2 separate regions of the Homo sapiens genome follow, and region 1 is linked to region 2. Evidence: fine-mapped expression QTL. Tissue or cell type: whole blood. Region 2 holds a variant in brackets; the other region holds the start of a gene. All regions are shown on one strand. Distances are from middle to middle.

Region 1 (8,075 bases), 59 kb before region 2:
CCAGAGGCCGATAGCCAGGAACAGGGCTCCCAGCACCTGCAAGGGCAGCAACAAAGAGCTCAGGGCTGGGAGCAGCCCCAGGACCCTCCCCCCTCATCCTTCCCCGGTAGCCAGGGCCTTTCCAGCGGAGAGAGGAAGAGGCACAAGGGCTGTGAACGGGATCCGGGGTCCTTTCCATCTTCCCAAGAACACATCCCAGTGCTTCTTCCCCACAGGACACAGCCTGGAGGACTGAACCCTCTGCTAGCCTTGGGATGGACATCAGGGGCCCCTTCCTGGAACTCCAAATTGGAGCAGACGGTGGCCAAGACACTCCTGCCAAGGAGCAATAGCAGCTGTGTCAGCGGGGGTAGCGACGGCGCCAGTATACTGAGCCTCTACACCTGACCGAAGCTGGTGCTGGGGTTCCAGGCTCCTAGCCTCCTTTCTGCACCCTGCCAAGTCCAGCTCTCCTGCTACCCTAAAGCCGTGTGACTGCGGCCCCGCCCTCAACACTCCTCCCCAGCCCAGCCCCATCCTACCCCTTTAACCTCCGCCTGCCAGAGTCAGCTTCCACGGCTCACGACCAGACACCCCTGAATGACAGGAATCTCAATCATCCCTAGCAGGATCCACCTAGGATCTGGCCTGTGCCAGTGGCTTTGCCCCATGGCCACAGCTCTGCCTGGGCCTTCAGAACACCAGCTAGACTCCCCACCGGGGCAGTCCAAGTGCCTCTCCTCCATCCTCAGCTTTCCCACCTTCCTGCCTCAATTCCCTACTGGGAAGAGCCCTGGATGTCCAGGCTGGTCACTCTCACACCTGACCCTGGGCAGGTCCCTGGGCGTGCAGTCTCAGAGGGGGAAAGGCTGTCGTACCCAAGCCCAGGGCCATGACCCCACCTCCTGCGACCTCCCCACCCACCTGCTTTATCTGCAGGCTCCTTCCCCTCAGCACATAGCCACGGCCAAGGCCTTTATCACCTTCCCTTCCCTGACCGTGGGCTCCCCACACTGCTCTATTCTTTCTCTGGAAACATCTTCCCTTCCCTCCTGCCTGCTGGGTCTGCTGATGTGAAACCAAACATCACTTCTCCTGCCTCCTCCCACTTGGCCTGCCCTTGGCCTTCAGACAGGGGACTGAGTGCCACTTTCTCCTTCCTGAACCCCACCTCAGTTAACTCAACCCCATTCCTCCCCGAGCTCCTTCCCAGGATGCTCCGCCTTCACCTGCCCCGGGGATTGGTCCAGAGGCAGCCAATCAGAGCCAAGGAAATACAATTAAAGCACTTTGGGAAAACAGCTGGGAAGTGAGCTCTCAGCCTCCAGCAGGAGTTCCTGGAGGGCTGTGTTCCTGGAGGGACCACCTGTGGCTGGTCCCACGGCCTCCAGCCTCAGCCTTCTGCCGTTCTTCCTCCTCACGCTCGTCTTCCATCCCATCATGACGCTGGCATCTCCCGATCCCCACCCAGACCTCATGCTGGTCCCACACCCCTACGTCCACCCGCCTGCAGCAAACACCTCCACGACCCACCGGCACTGATCGCCGCCATGCCGGGGATTCGCTGGTGAATAGGACGGACTCGACCCTCACGGAGCTTACACTCCAGCAGGGGAGATGGACAGTCAGTGAGCAGACAAGGAAACCTCAGATGCAAACAGACCCCTTAACAAATATCGAGCGGGGCGACGAGATGGGGGATGCTGGGGTTGGACGCCAGCTTTAGAGAGGGCAGAAGGGAGGGTGGGGGCATTTCAGCTGAGGTTTGAATGATGAAAAGAGCAAGAGGGAAAAGCCTGTTCCAGGAGGAGGGTAGGGCACAGGCAGAGGCCCTGACACAAGACCACGTCTAGTTCAAGGAACAAACTGAAGGGCGGACAGCCCGGCCCCGCGGGGCCCTGGAGGCCGACAGTACTCTAGGAGCAGTAAGAAACCACGAGCAGGATGGCCGGGCGTGGTGGCTCACGCCTGTAATCCCAGCACTTTGGGAGGCCAAGGCAGGTGGATCACCTGAGGTCAGGAGTTCGAGACCAGCCTGACCAACATGAAGAAACCCCATCTCTAGTAAAAATACAAAATTAGCCAGGCGTGGTGGCACACACCTATAGTCCCAGCTACTTGGGAGGCTGAGGCAGGAGAATCGCTTGAACCTGGGAGACGGAGGTTGCAGTGAACCGAGATCGTGCCATTGCACTCCAGCCTGGGCAACAAGAGCAAAACTCTGTCTCAAAAAAAAAAAAGAAAAAAGAAAAAAGGAAACCACAAGCAGTTTCCAAACAGAACAACACCAGGGTCTGCCTGACATTAAACATGAAAACCTCTGTGCCTGTTCCACAAGCAGCCTCCCTTAGGCCACCTTAACCCAAATCTGAAATCCTCCCTCCAGCCCCCAAGTGACCCAGCCCAGTCAATTCAGCCTCTTGACTTTCCCAGCAACCTCCCTCACCTTTCCCACCTCACCATCCCAGCTTTGCCCCAGCCCTGCCCCCATTCCAAACCTCCAGGCCCTGCCCCTCATCCACCCTCCACACAGCAGCCAGGCAAGCGGTCTCCAGAACAGAAGCCAGATCAGACCCATCACTGGAAGCCCTCGCTTCTCCATGCCACCTTAACATAACACCCCACGCTCCGCCCCAGCAACAAACCCGGGTCTCTCACGCCTGCTCCCCCTCGGTATTTGAGGTTACTTCTGCTCACAGCTCTGCCTCACCTCCACCCTCTGCCCACTAAGCCGTCACCTTGGCTCTGTACTTTCTGGCTGTGTGACCCTAGGTAAGTGACTTAATTTCTCTGTGTCTATTCCTTCAGTTTCCCCATCTGTAAAATGCAGATAATAAGGCAGTTGTGAGAATACAACAAATTGAACTCATTGTATCTGCCTAACAGCCCTCACAGGCAGATTCTTTATCGTCGTCTCCCAGGCAGGCAAGCTGAGGCCCGGAGAGGAGAGATGACTTGCCCAAGGTGTCCCAGCCAGGCCTGCTACAGCCAGGCCTTCTGACTTCTTTGCCAGTGCTCCCACACACTGCCCACACCCTCAAGAGCCTAGCGCTGCAGTGCAAGGACACCCACCACACCAGTGAGCTCGGTGACACGTGGGTGGGGGGCAGTGCCACTGAGTCTTGCTGAACACAAGGGAAAAGGCCTGGCATCTTGACCCAAGGCCTCAGGAGCAGAGACTGCAGAGGGCCACGGCTTTGGAGAGATGGGAAAAATGACCTGGCAGGGCCCAGGGGGACAGATGCCACCCTGGGAGGGGCACTAGTAGCTCCCTTCCCCGGTAGGGGCAGACCCGCCCAGGAGCCTCAGCTTGTCAGCTGTGGAATGTTGAATTCTGTTCCCCAAGGCCAGCTCCCAGGCTCTCAACCGGGGAGATCCTCTCCCAGCCGCCAAGGACTCGCCATTGTCCCTCCCTGCCCCTCCTGGCAGGTCAGCCTCCTTGTGCGGGACTGGGGTGGGCAGAGGACTGTGACCCACCCCACTCTGCAGGAGCCTAAGGTGAGGCACCTGACCCAGGTACTACTGGAAGGGAAAGGAGGCCGGGGAAGGGGCCTGGCGGCTCCCTTCACGCCAGAATCTCCTTACCGGCTAAACCAGGGGTGGGGCTTGGCACGCATCCCACATCCCAGGGTAGGAAGGAGGGCTGGGCGAGAGGGGGCAACCTGCACCTAGCACGCCCCTGGGGTCTTCAAGGAAACACCTTCCCTTTCTCCACCAGGCCTCGGGATTATTTAGGGAGACTCCCTACCCCAACCCCGACCCCACGCTGTCGCTAGGACCCGCCCCCAGCAATCCGGGCCTCTGTAGCTACCTCGGGTGGTCCTGGAAGTGGGCGTGGGTGTGGCAGAAGTGGGGGGATGGTCCCGAGCTCCAAACTCTTGGGGCAGGGAGTGGTCTCCCCCAGCAAAAGACTGAATCTCCCTCTCCCACCACCCCCCAGCACAGGGCAAGGCGCAGACCCCGCGCTCACCCAGAAGACAATGTTGAAGCCAAACAGGAAGTATTTCCCGCAGCAGCCGACCTCAGGTTCCTGGAAATGCTGGTGCTTGCCGGGCATGGTGAGCGGCCACCCGCCGGCCCGGAAACCGGAGCCGGGAGCCAGGCCCAGCGCCCCGCGGGCCGCCCTGGGCTAGAGCCGCCCGGGGCCTAGCCGGGCGGCTGCGGCTTCATGGCCTCGGCCACACAGAGCGCCGGTCGGGCCCCGCCCGCCCCTCAGGGACCGCCCTCAGCATCCAGACCTCCTTGCCCGGAGCCCTGCTGTCCCCGCCTCTGGACCGGGCCCCGCCCCCACAGCCCTCAGTCCCTTTGGAGTCCCGCCTCCTGACCTGGCTCCGCCCCCATAGATCAACTCAGTCCCGCCTGAGCCCCGCCTCTGGACCTGGCTCCGCTTCCCGAGCTCCGCCCCCACAGCCTGATTCGGACCTCCTCGCAGCCCCGCCTTCGGCCAGGCCCCGCCCCCGCGCAGGCCGCCGCCGCGTTTCCCAGCGTCCTGCAGACCCGCCCGGGACGCCGGCTGATGGCGCCGGAGGCCGCCGGGGTGTAGAAGCCTTGCTTCCCCTGCTGGGTACCAGCGCCATCCCAATCCCCAGCCTGCTGTTGGAGCCCATCCCAGGGGAAGGTTAACTGCTGCTCTGGCAGGCGAATGGGGAAGCTGGTCCGGATTGAGTTTTTAACACGTGCAGGACGTTTTGTCATTGTGGAGTCGCATCAGGCTCACCTTCACCCAGCGGAAATCCAGCTCTACTTATCCTGACTCAAACTCAGGCCAAACGAGGGCCTGGGCCTTGGTGCCACGCCGGCTGCGCCCTGCCAGGGGCATATGCCCCCCGGAACCTGGCTCAAGCCCCCTTGGTGGCTGAGTTTCCCCAGCCACACCCCCTGTCCTCCATACTGGCCAGGGTCCCGGTCAGGCTCCTTGGTACCCAGTGATCTCACATGAGCCCCTGTAAGACAGGACAGAGGCAGATCAAAGTTTGGGGGAACCTGAATCTTACTCCAGTTTGAAGCCCTCTTAAAAATAATTCCAACTTTGTTCAGAAGTATTTATTTAAAACAGGAACAGAAAGATGCTTAAGCTTTTATTATCAAGTTTATCCACTTCCACCACTTCTACCAGAACCTTGGTGAGGCCTAGCCCAGCATCCCTCCACCTCCACTTCAGTCTGGCCCTGAGGCAGGCAAGGCCCAGACAGCCCTGGTCACAGCTGGGGAGAAGGGGAGCGGCCTTGCAAGGCTCTCTCAGTCCTCAGCAACCCACGTATCCCTCTGTACAAATGATGGCGTTCACCCTCCAGAATGTCTGTGCCCTTGAGCCCACCACCCATGGAAGAGTCTGTCTCTCAGGCCACCTCACCTCCTTCCTGGGTGGAAACAGTAAACGCTGGACTATGGGTTTCTCCGCCTACCATAGAGCCCTCCTTCCCCGCCATGACTCACCCCACCCTCAGGAGTTTTTTCCACCCTGCTGCTGTCCTGTGGCCCCAGGACAAGCTAGGTCCTCAGACTGCCACCACTACCCCCATCTAGCCCCTAAGGCTCAGGCCCCAACTCATGTTAAAGAGTGTTTGCATTCCTGTTCACTTGAGGACAGGTAAGAACTAGGCTGTCTGATCCCCAGTCCCGCCCCATCCCCCAAAGTAATGAGGCTCAGTGGCGGCTGTCCCATTACATAGGAGGGGTGCCAAGGCCCCCCTCACACCACAAACTTGTTCTTGGCTAGGGAGTTGCTCTTGGTGGCTGTGTCTGCATGGGCCTGGTACCCAATGATGGTCTTTGGGGAGAGGCCCAGGCGCTCTTTGTATACACGCCTGCAGGTGCGGGGGACACAGAGGAAAAGAGACACAGGTAGTCATCAGAGGGTCCTAGAGATAACTTAGGCCACCAGACTCCTACCCTCATTCTGGCCACAGCCACACCTGTTGTGTCTTACCCATGTGGAAACCCAAAATATGACCCCCTTAATGCAAAAGGAGAGCTGCACTGCCGTAAGAGAAAGTTAGAAATCTGAACGCCAGACCTTCCATACAGGTGGGCAAGGCAGAAGGGAGGGAGGCTATGGAGACTTTCAGAGGTCTCCCATGCAGGCCAAGCCCCCTCCACCCACCTTCCCTCTAGCAGAGACCCAAGTCCCCACCCTGTGCCAGAGACCCTCCTCACCCAACGTGCAGCACGCCCGCCTGGTTTTCCGCCTCCCTCGTCCACACAGCGATCTTGTCCCCCTTGGTGCGGATGTTGACGACGGCCCCACATACCTCTCTGCTGTGTTCCTCAAAGCTCTCCCCGATCAGACACAGCAGCTGGACCCGAAGTAGGGGGTTGTGAGATCACCGGCTGGGACATAGGGACTGGCCTGCCATCCTTGAGACCACTGCCACCATGAGACCCACACAGCCCGTCTCTTCCCCTGAGGACCCTCCTCCTCCAACTCACCGTCTCCAGCCACAGCCGGTCCAGCTCAATGTGGCGCTGCTGCTTGGCCAGGCTGACCAGCCAGCGGCCACCCCGTTTATTCCTGCTGTCCTCCCACATGGGCTGGATGCCATCCTGCAAGGCAGATGGCAAGTCAACTGCCTCCCTGTGTTCAAAGGGAAATGGGGACCCACCCACCATCCCGGCCTTATCCGCTCTCTGCTGAGGCCCTAAGTAGGCCAGATTCTCTTATCCTCCCTTCCCTCAGTGCAAGCAGGTTCCACCCCCAGCCACTCAGCTCCCCCCGACAGACAGCACTGGTCACCTTGTATAGCCTTGTATATGTGCATGTCTCTTTTACTGAGTTCCTTAAGACAAGCATTCAAATCGGGGTGGATTAAGGAAGCCTCAGGGGCAGACCCCAATGCAGGCAAGGGGGACATCCCAGGCTTGGCTGCATGGTTCCCAGGCAGGGCAGAAGTCACTGGGGAGATCTCTAAACACAATGTCAGCCCTCCAGGGATGGGTGTGGCATCAATGAGTGTCCTCAAGCAATTCTGATGCCCTTCCCTAGTTAAGGAGCCAGGTCAGAAATCTCTCCCTCTCCCTCTTCCCGCCTCTTAAGGTCCTCCAAGGTGCGGCTTGGGCCTGACCTACTCTGTCCGGGCTCCTGTAGAGCATTTCCTCCAGTCAGAAACCACAACTCTGCTGAGAGGTGGCCCGTAGCTCCCCACCCCCACCCCTCTGAGGGATTAACGCAGTGGAGTCCGGGAGGGATCAACCCCTTGTCCCTTTGCGGGAGGGAAAGAGGAGAGCAGAGCTTACCTTGAAGAGGGCGTAGTCACAGCCAGAGGAGAGCTTGCTGGCCAGCTGGATGTGACTGTATAGCCTGGACAGAGCCCCCGACCCCATGCCAAAAGTCAAGGCTTTTTAGGGCCTGGTTCCAACTGGGTTCAGCCCTCCCAACTCCTCATCCGACCCCATGGCCTCCAAGCCTTTGCTTACACTGGCCTGCCACCTGGGATTCCACTCCCGTTTATCCAAACTCTCAAGACCCACCTTTTCCACAGAGCCTTCCCAGTGAAGGCTGAGCCAACCCCTGGGGAGGGTTTTAGACCCCCTGGTGCTCCCCCCTCCAGCTACAGCCGAGGCCTTCTCACCCTCCCTAGGGCTTGTGTAGCCCTTTTCAGAGCCACTCCCGTGAGCACCCGGACACTGAGGCAGCCGAGTCCTCCCTTTGCAGCTGAGACAGGTTCAGAGAGGGGAAGGAACTTGCCCAGGTCACAAAGCCCTGGAGTGGCCGAGTCAAGGTCAGCTTCCTGCTTCTCCTGCTCCCCAGGCTCTCTCCCTGAGCCCAAAGAAGGTGGTGGGGTGGGGGGTGGTTGTGCCCTATACCCCCTGGGCAGAACCCACAAAGCCCCAGCCCTCACAAAGGCTGAAAGGCCCTAGGGAGGGCTGGCTCAACCCGGAGAGAGGGAGCCCAGAGCTCAGAGCCCCCCAACTCTAGCCCCACTGGGGACAGACACTCACGCCCAGAAGTCCTCCACAGTGTCCACCTTGGTGACCAGGTGCAGGTTGTCCTGCCAGGCCCGGCTGCGGTCATTCTTGAAGAACCACAGAGCCCACCTGGTAGGGGAAGGGGGAGGCAGCCAGGAGGAAGCAGAGAGCCAAGTCCACCCCCGGGGCAC
Region 2 (8,077 bases):
GTTGTCGTCCAGGGAGTTGACGCTGTAAGAGAGGTGATGGAGCTCAGGTGTTGGCAGGCCCAGTCCTCCCTTACTGTGCCCAAGAACCACCACCTCCATCACCACCATCACCATCACCACGACTACCACCATCATCACCATCACCACCACCACCATCATCACAACTACCATCATCACTACCATCAGCACCATCACCATCACCTCAACACCAACACCACCACCACCACTATCATCATAATCACTATCACCACCACCATCACCATCACCTCAACACCAACACCACCACCACCACCGTCATCATCCATCATCACCACCATCACCATCACCTCAACACCAACACCACCACCACCATCATCATCATAACCATCACCACCACCATCACCATCACTACCATCACCATCACCACCATCACCTCAACACCAACACCACCACCACCACCATCACCATCACCACCATCACCATCACCACCATCATCACCTCAACACCAACACCACCACCACCATCATCATTGTCATCATCACCATCATCACCACCATCACCATCAGCACCATCATCACCTCAACACCAACACCACCACCACCATCATCATTGTCATCATCACCATCATCACCACCATCACCATCACTACCATCACCATCACCACCACCATCACCACCACCACCACGATAACTGCCACCACTACCATGACCACCATGACCACCACCATCACCATTGCCACCACCATCACCCACCACCACTACCATCACCACCATCACCTCAACACCAACACCACCACCACCACCACCGTCATCATCACCATCATCACCACCATCACCATCACAACCATCACCATCACCTCAACACCAACACCATCATCACCACCATCACCATCACAACCATCACCATCACCTCAACACCAACACCATCATCACCACCATCACCATCACAACCATCACCATCACCTCAACACCAACACCACCACCACCACCACCATCGTCATCATCACCATCATCACCACCATCACCATCACAACCATCACCATCACCTCAACACCAACACCATCATCACCACCATCATTGTTGTCATCATCACCACTGTCACCATTGCTACCATCACCATCACCTCACTACCATCACCACCACCACCATAACTACCACTACTACCATGACCACACCATCACCATTGTCATCACCATCATCACCACCAACACCATCACCACCACCACCGTCACTACCTGTACCACCACCACCACCTAGCCTGGCTGTGAGGGGCACTGCTCACCTGACAGAGTCCAGGTCATTGGAGGGAGAGAGGTACTCCAAGCCCAGGTCTTTGTTGGGGAGGTTCAGCATGGGGTTGGCTCTGGAGAGAAAGCCTGGTCAAGTTGCCTGGCCCTCAGCCACCCCACCAGGCCTCTTACCTACCCTTTGACCCCTGCTCACCGCTCAGTGTTGTACATGTTAGTCCCTGGGATGGCAGGGGCTGAGGGCATCACCCCTGCTGCTGTCTTCCTGGCCTCCTTGGCAGCCTTCATAGCTTGAAGCTTCCGGTTGTAGCTGTGGGGAACCGGAAGAGGGGTCACACTGTTGCTGCACACCTGTTGTGTCCCCAGTGGAGGCCCTGAGCCTGTGGCTTCACAAGATCCCGGGAGGTGAGTGTTAGCTCTATTTTACAGAGGGTAGAAGTAAGAGCCAGAGAAGGCAAGTGATTTGCCAAAGGTCAAATAGCCAGTGACAAGGCTTGAAGTCAAGCCCAGATACGGCTGCTGACTCTATACATGTTGGAAAAAGCAGCAGCATCTATTAAACGCATAGTGTGTGCCAGACGTCTAGCTGGGTGTGAGATGCATGTTACTTCCTTGAGTGCACTGAGGAATCAAGTCTCATGCCCTTTCACAGATAAGGAAACTGAGGCCCGTGGAGGGGAGGTGACTCACCCAAGATCTCGCACTGGGTCACTGGGGAGTGAATGCATGTATACCTGTGCCTAAGCCCCAGCTCCTTCTACCCCTACCCCCCGACGTCTTGGGTGGTGGGAGAGGGTGAAGGTTGGAGACACGGGGGCAATGGGAGCCGCACCTCTTCCGCACACACACGAAGGCCATGGTCATGATCACAAGGACCAGCAGCAAAGCCACTCCCAATCCTATGATGACACTGATGAGCTGTTTCGACAGGTCTGACTCCTGGCTCTCCTGGGAGCCCTGGAGAAAGATGAGTGTGAGGGAAGCACACTCGTCTTCAGCAGCCCCACCTGCTGCCCCGCCCTGCCCGCACTCACCAGCACCACCAGCCCCAGCTGCAGCAGCTGCGTCAGCGAGTCCTGATCATTCCGGATCATCCTGGCCACAGAACTCCACTTAGGCCCGAGGGACCTTGGCACACCCCAGGCTTCCTGCTCACCCTCACACCTGCCCCAAGGGCAGCCCCACTCACACACTCAGCTCATCAAGGGTCAGGGCTGACCCATTGGGGAAGACAAAGTAGGCATCGAGGTAGGAGTGAGGTCGGGCCCTGGAGCGGGACAGAGTTGAAGAGTCAGGAGCCTGGATCACCCAGCAGGCCCCTCCTGCTACCGCTTCTCCCCCTCAACCCCACCCCCAGGCCTCTGGGCACTCACCGAGCTGCAGAATCTATGTCCTGAATGTCCACAATGTATACTGTAGTCCTGGTTGCCTGGGTAAGAGCCCTGCAAAGAAGGCAGATGTCACAGAGGCCTGGGGTCTTAGCCTGGGCCTGTGGCCAGGGCTGTGCCAGTGGGATTAAGAATTGTATGAGTGAGAAAGGGCACCTCCTCTGGACAGCTCTGTTGGCTGAGTAGGTAGCATCTCTGTGAAAATTACAAAAGGAAATCCCTTCCTCTGGGGCTGGGTGAATAGCTTAGCAAGCAGAGTGCCCTTGTGCAACACACAGCCTTCACAACTGTACACGGCAGCCTTGTTCCAAGGCTTCCCTCTGCCCTTGGCTGGGTATGGGCTTCTGGGGACATGCAAGAACGTCGTGCAGGTGAAAGTACAGGGTTGAAGACAGGGACAAGGTCAAATGTGGGTCAGGAACAGGATTGAGAGACATCCCATCCAGGTTTTGTCGGGGACCAGGCTCCTACACCCTGTTCTTCCTACCCCTCCCTCCGGGGCTCCCCAGACCTACGCATTAATCGCCTGTCTGTTGGCGCCCACCTCCTCCTTCGGTGTGGAGAACTGCAGCCGCGAGCGGTAACTCTGGTCCACGGTGAAGAGCTGGGAAGGGGGTGTGCAGGAGATGAGGCACCAGGGACCCTGGGGGCTGGCAGAGGGCGTTGGGGGCTGGAGGTGGGACCAGCACTCACATTCAGGGTGGTGGTGGCTTCCAGGAAAGGACCCAAGGAAGGTCTGTCCCTGGCCTGGACTGTCACTTGGTAGGTGCCTTGGAGAGTGGAGTCGAGGCTGGTCACCGGCCTGCGGAAGGCGGGAGGCGCAGGTCAGTCTTGGAACCCAAGCTGAATCCTCAGGACCCTTGTAACCTCCAGGATGGGGGACTTGCTGCCTGAAAGCTCCTATCGGGCCCCTCCCCGCAACCTCCCTCCCGGGGCCGCCCGCAGTTACTGAATGCTCCCAGCGAACACGTCGGCCTCGGAGGAGGTGAAGATCGAGAAGACACCCTGGAAAGGGATGGTGGCCCCGTCCTTAGAGATGAAGTCTACTCGGAGGATGGAGAACAGGATGACGCCATTGTTCCCTGAATCATCGTCTCTGGCCTGGGAGCAAGAGTGGACAATATCTGGGGGCCCAGCCAGGCCAGGCATCCCTCCACCCCAGCAGGGATCAGAGGCAAGGGTGGCCTGGGAGGCTGGCCCTCACCGTCTCTATCCGCCATCCCCACGCTGCCCCGAATAAGCAAATGGTTTCAAAAAACAGTGTGTCTGCTCTGCAAATCCAGATTTGGACAAGAACCTGCCCCTGTTCCCCAACTCCAAACAGATCACTGCCCTAAGTCCCTCACATGTGGAAATCCTGCCCTGCTCCCCCTACACCCCTCCACTGCCATACTCTCTCTCTCTCTCACACACACACACTCACACACACAGTCTCTCTCACATACACACCCTCTCACACACACACACTCTCACACACTGTCCCACTCACACTCAGTCTCACCCTAACACACACTTACACACATATGCACACACACTCATACACACCCTCACACACACTCTCACACACTGTCCCACTCACACATACACTCACTCACCCTAACACACTCACACACATGCACACACTCATACACACCCTCACACACTTATCCTCTCACACTCACATACACTCACACACCCTCTCAC[A/C]CTCACACACTTATCCTGACACACACACTCACACCCTCACTCTCTCATGCACTCACCACACACTCAATTCACACACACTCACACAAATACACTCAATTCACACACATTCACACACTTGCACAGTCACACACATACACACCCACAATCACCTACATACCCACACACTGTCACACACATTCACATACACTCACTCACCCTTATACACACCCTCAGGCACACACATTCACACTTAGACACACACACACTGGCGTGCACACACACAGCGATGCTCAGATTTCCTAAGCACCTCCCCTGGGATCCCTCATTTCCGTGCGGGGAGTACCAATTCCCCTAGTAGACCATGAAGCTGGTTGGGGAGGGGACACAAGCATTTTTATTCATTCTAGTGCCTTTTAGAGAAAAATTTAACCAGCACACAGAGCTTCGAGTTCACCAACGTTACTGTTAAGGATAGGCCAACACCAGTGCTTAGGTCTTAAAAAGGAATCTATTTAAAGAAAATTGCCGTGGCTAAACTCTTGACATTAGAACCAAATTGGCAGAAGATTGGGAAGCTGTCTTAAGACTTGAAAGTCACACAGTCACTGTCTCTAGCATGAACGTCAACCTAGAGAGGGAGAATTACTATCCCCATTTTACAAGAGGAAGCTGAGGCTCCGAGAGACCCTGTCCTTACACTCGGCTCTAAGTGGGGAAGGCCAGCCCTGTCCATCTCTTGTACCCATGTCCTTTCCAAAGCATAGGGAATGGCACCCACATGCCACCTTCTGGGAACTGCTAGCTTCTTGTTGAACAGGGAAACGGAGTCCCAGAGAGGGTAGGCAGCTCTCCAGGTCAGTAAGAAGCCCAGCCAGGCCCAGCCCTCGGTGGTGTGGGAAGCCTCATCCCCACACGGCATGGCCACCACCCCTAATAAACTTGCCACATCCAACACCATAAACAGCTGAAAGCCTTTTTATGACTTGGCTCCAATAATTTATTTATTTATTTATTTTTTTTTGAGGCAGAGTTTCACTCTTGTCGCCCAGGCTGGAGTGCAATGGCGTGATCTCGACTCACCGCAACCTCCGCCTCTCGAGTTCAAGTGACTCTCCTGCCTCAGCCTCCCAAGTAGCTGGGATTACAGGCATGCACCACCACACCCAGCTAATTTTGTATTTTTTAGTAGAGATGGGGTTTCTGCATGTTGGTCAGGCTGGTCGCAGACTCCCGACCTCAGGTGATCCACCTGCCTTGGCCTCCCAAAGTGCTGGGATTACAGGCTTGAGCCACCGTGCCCAGCTGGCTCTGAGAATTATTTAATGACAAGGCACTGGCTTAATTTACAATTAGCTATGAGTTCTCTGTATTACTCAAGAATTCTGGTATAGTAAGAAATATCTGGACTGCAAGTGGTATTTACGGTCATGACATTTTTATGAATGCTACATTTATCACAGTGAAGTTTGATTACATTGATTAGACAGGTGTTGGTTTCCCTTCTGGGGTTTTCTTTTTCATGTGTTGGAGCCCATATATTTTCTTTCTACCATGGAAGGCCTGAAGGCCTCAGCCCTGTGTCCCCTGGGGCTCATATGACCAACAAAGGCTGGAGCCAAGAACTTACCCGGACAGAAGCCACCTCCCGGTTGGGCAGCACGAGTTCAGGGATGATCACTGCAGGTGTGAACGGGAACGGGGTCAGCGGGGTCGGGACACTGCCCACCTGGACCAAGGCTGGTCACGAGCCCAGCTCAGGGCTCATCCCCCTAAACCTGCCCTCAACCTCTCTACCAAAAGAGACCCCTATTACAGCCACCACTGGGCCAGTAGTTAGCAAGTCATCCACCTCCCATTGTCACAGGTGAGGTCACAGGCCCACAGGACCATGCGGAAATGGAGGCCCAGAGAGGGAAGTCCTGGCCCAGGGCCAGACATTAGGTCGGACAGAGCTGGAATGAAAACTCCAGTGTTGGCTGGGCATGGTGGCTCATGCCTATAATCCCAGCACTTTGGGAGGCCAAGGCGAGCAGATCACTTGAGGCCAGGAGTTCAAGACCAGTCTGGCCAACACAATGAAACCCTGTCTCTACTAAAAATACAAAAATTAGCCAGGTGTGGTGGCGCATGCCTGTAGCCCCAGCTACTCTGGAGGCTAAGGCATGAGAATTGCTTGAACCTGGGAGGCGGAGGTTGCAGTGAGCTGAGATCGTACCATTGCGCTCCAGCCTGGGCGACAGAGCAAGACTCCGTCTCAAGAAAAAAAGGAAAGAAAAAAGAAAACTCCAATGTCCTCTCCTATTGCAGCCCTAGGAAGATGCAGGATTAGAGGCCTTCCCCCCTTTCTAAAGGCTCCCCCTGGGGTCCAAGGAGGGTCTGTCGGGGTTGCTCAAAGGCGGCCTTATGGAGCAGGGGTATGGTGTGTGAATGGGGTTGCTGCTTACCAAAAGTCTTATTCTCAGGCAGAAAATAGGGTGCATTGTCATTCACGTCCTCAATGGTAATGAGGAGGCTTCCTAGGAGACAAGGTCAGCTGGCTTTGGCTCTGGGCAAAAGCTTGACCCAAAGAGCCTGGGCCTCAACCCTGTGCCCCACAGCCTCAACCCCATGCCCCGCAGCCTCAACCCCGTGCCCCGCAGCCTCAACCCTGTGCCCCGCAGCCTCAACCCCGTGCCCCGCAGCCTCAACCCCATGCCCCGCAGCTTCTCTCCCATGTGTTCCCCCATGCTCAGTCCCCTTCCCTGCTCCTGACCCAGAATGCCTGATCGGTCTTCTCTGGCCTGTGTGGGTGGGAGTATCATCCCAGACCTCAGAGCAGATAAGCAGCTTGTCAAAGTCACACAGCAATAGTGGTGGGCCAGGATTGGGCCCAGCCTAGGTAGATCTCACCTATGACATTATACTGACACATTCTAACTATATAAGCTGGTTGTTTAAATACCCACTTTCTGCCTCAGTTTCCTCATCTATAAAATTGGATAGGGAACACCTACCCCATGGGTTGTGTGGAAGTGGAAAAATTCTTACAAGGTGCCTGGTGTAGTTCTTGGCTGTCATAAGGACTCAATATATGCTAGTTGTTAATGTGATTATTATTGCTATTTGGTGTCAGAAGTGGGATACAAGCACACATCTAGCTCTGCAGTGTTATCTTTCTTTCACAGCATCTTGTAAAATAATGGCATTAATTTGATGCTACTGCATGCCAGGCACTGCAATAAATGCCATACATCCATATTCTCATTGAATCTTCACAGCCCACCCCACTGCCCAACTCCACTGGACAGATGGGGAAACTGAAGCTTGGAGAGGGTTTGGGACTTTCCCAGTATTTGCAGCTGGAAAGGGCTGGAGCCAAGATCTGAGCCCAGACCTTGTGAGTTCCAGCCCAGGGCTCCTTCCCGCGGCCCCTAAGCTATGGCCTGCCAAGCCCTGCAAGGACAGGCTGCCTTACCATTGTTGCTGTAGGCCTGGAAGCCGGGGTCCGTGGCTAGGTCACAGGCCCGCACAACCAGCGTGACCAGGTCACAGGCCTCGTAGTCGATGGCTTTGCTCTGGTTGATGTACACAGAGCCGTTGGCCGCCACTGAGAACCAGCCCCAGCATAGGCTGCCCACATCGACCCCGGCCTTGGTGCAGAGAATGTTCACAAGCTGTATCTCCAGCTGGGCACTGGTGTCCACATCCGAGGCAACCACCACAGCCACCTGGCCGTGCTGTGAGCCATTCTCAGCCACACGGATGCCCCGGAGTGAGGCTACATCCAGGGTGGGGGGATTGTCGTTCACGTCTTTCACATTCA

The links. PIP is the estimated chance that this variant, and not a neighbour inherited with it, causes the effect.
Region 1: TSPAN17 starts here. The variant in region 2 is fine-mapped to the expression of TSPAN17 in whole blood (TOPMed, PIP above 0.99).

Annotation. Positions count from the first base shown.
Region 1 is chr5:176,643,577-176,651,651 of GRCh38, reverse strand. TSPAN17 (tetraspanin 17) reads right to left here and starts at 4,168. Exons shown (of 9, transcript NM_130465.5): 1 at 3,950-4,168; 2 at 1-36. The coding sequence starts at 4,036. It overlaps EIF4E1B (eukaryotic translation initiation factor 4E family member 1B), which reads right to left. Exons shown (of 9, transcript NM_001099408.2): 5 at 7,918-8,013; 6 at 7,213-7,276; 7 at 6,409-6,522; 8 at 6,136-6,275; 9 at 5,008-5,786. The coding sequence ends at 5,672. RefSeq lists enhancers at 123-1,921, 2,039-2,908, 5,270-5,564, 5,835-6,345, 6,927-7,566 and 1 more and a silencer at 3,937-4,596.
Region 2 is chr5:176,584,668-176,592,744 of GRCh38, reverse strand. CDHR2 (cadherin related family member 2) reads right to left here. Exons shown (of 32, transcript NM_017675.6): 19 at 7,730-8,077; 20 at 6,720-6,791; 21 at 5,903-5,952; 22 at 3,563-3,714; 23 at 3,307-3,415; 24 at 3,129-3,217; 25 at 2,599-2,667; 26 at 2,415-2,492; 27 at 2,260-2,320; 28 at 2,058-2,182; 29 at 1,422-1,535; 30 at 1,261-1,341; 31 at 1-22. Among named protein-coding and RNA genes, the nearest start is that of GPRIN1, 21 kb to the left of the region's middle. The variant A/C (reference allele first, on the strand shown) is at 4,297.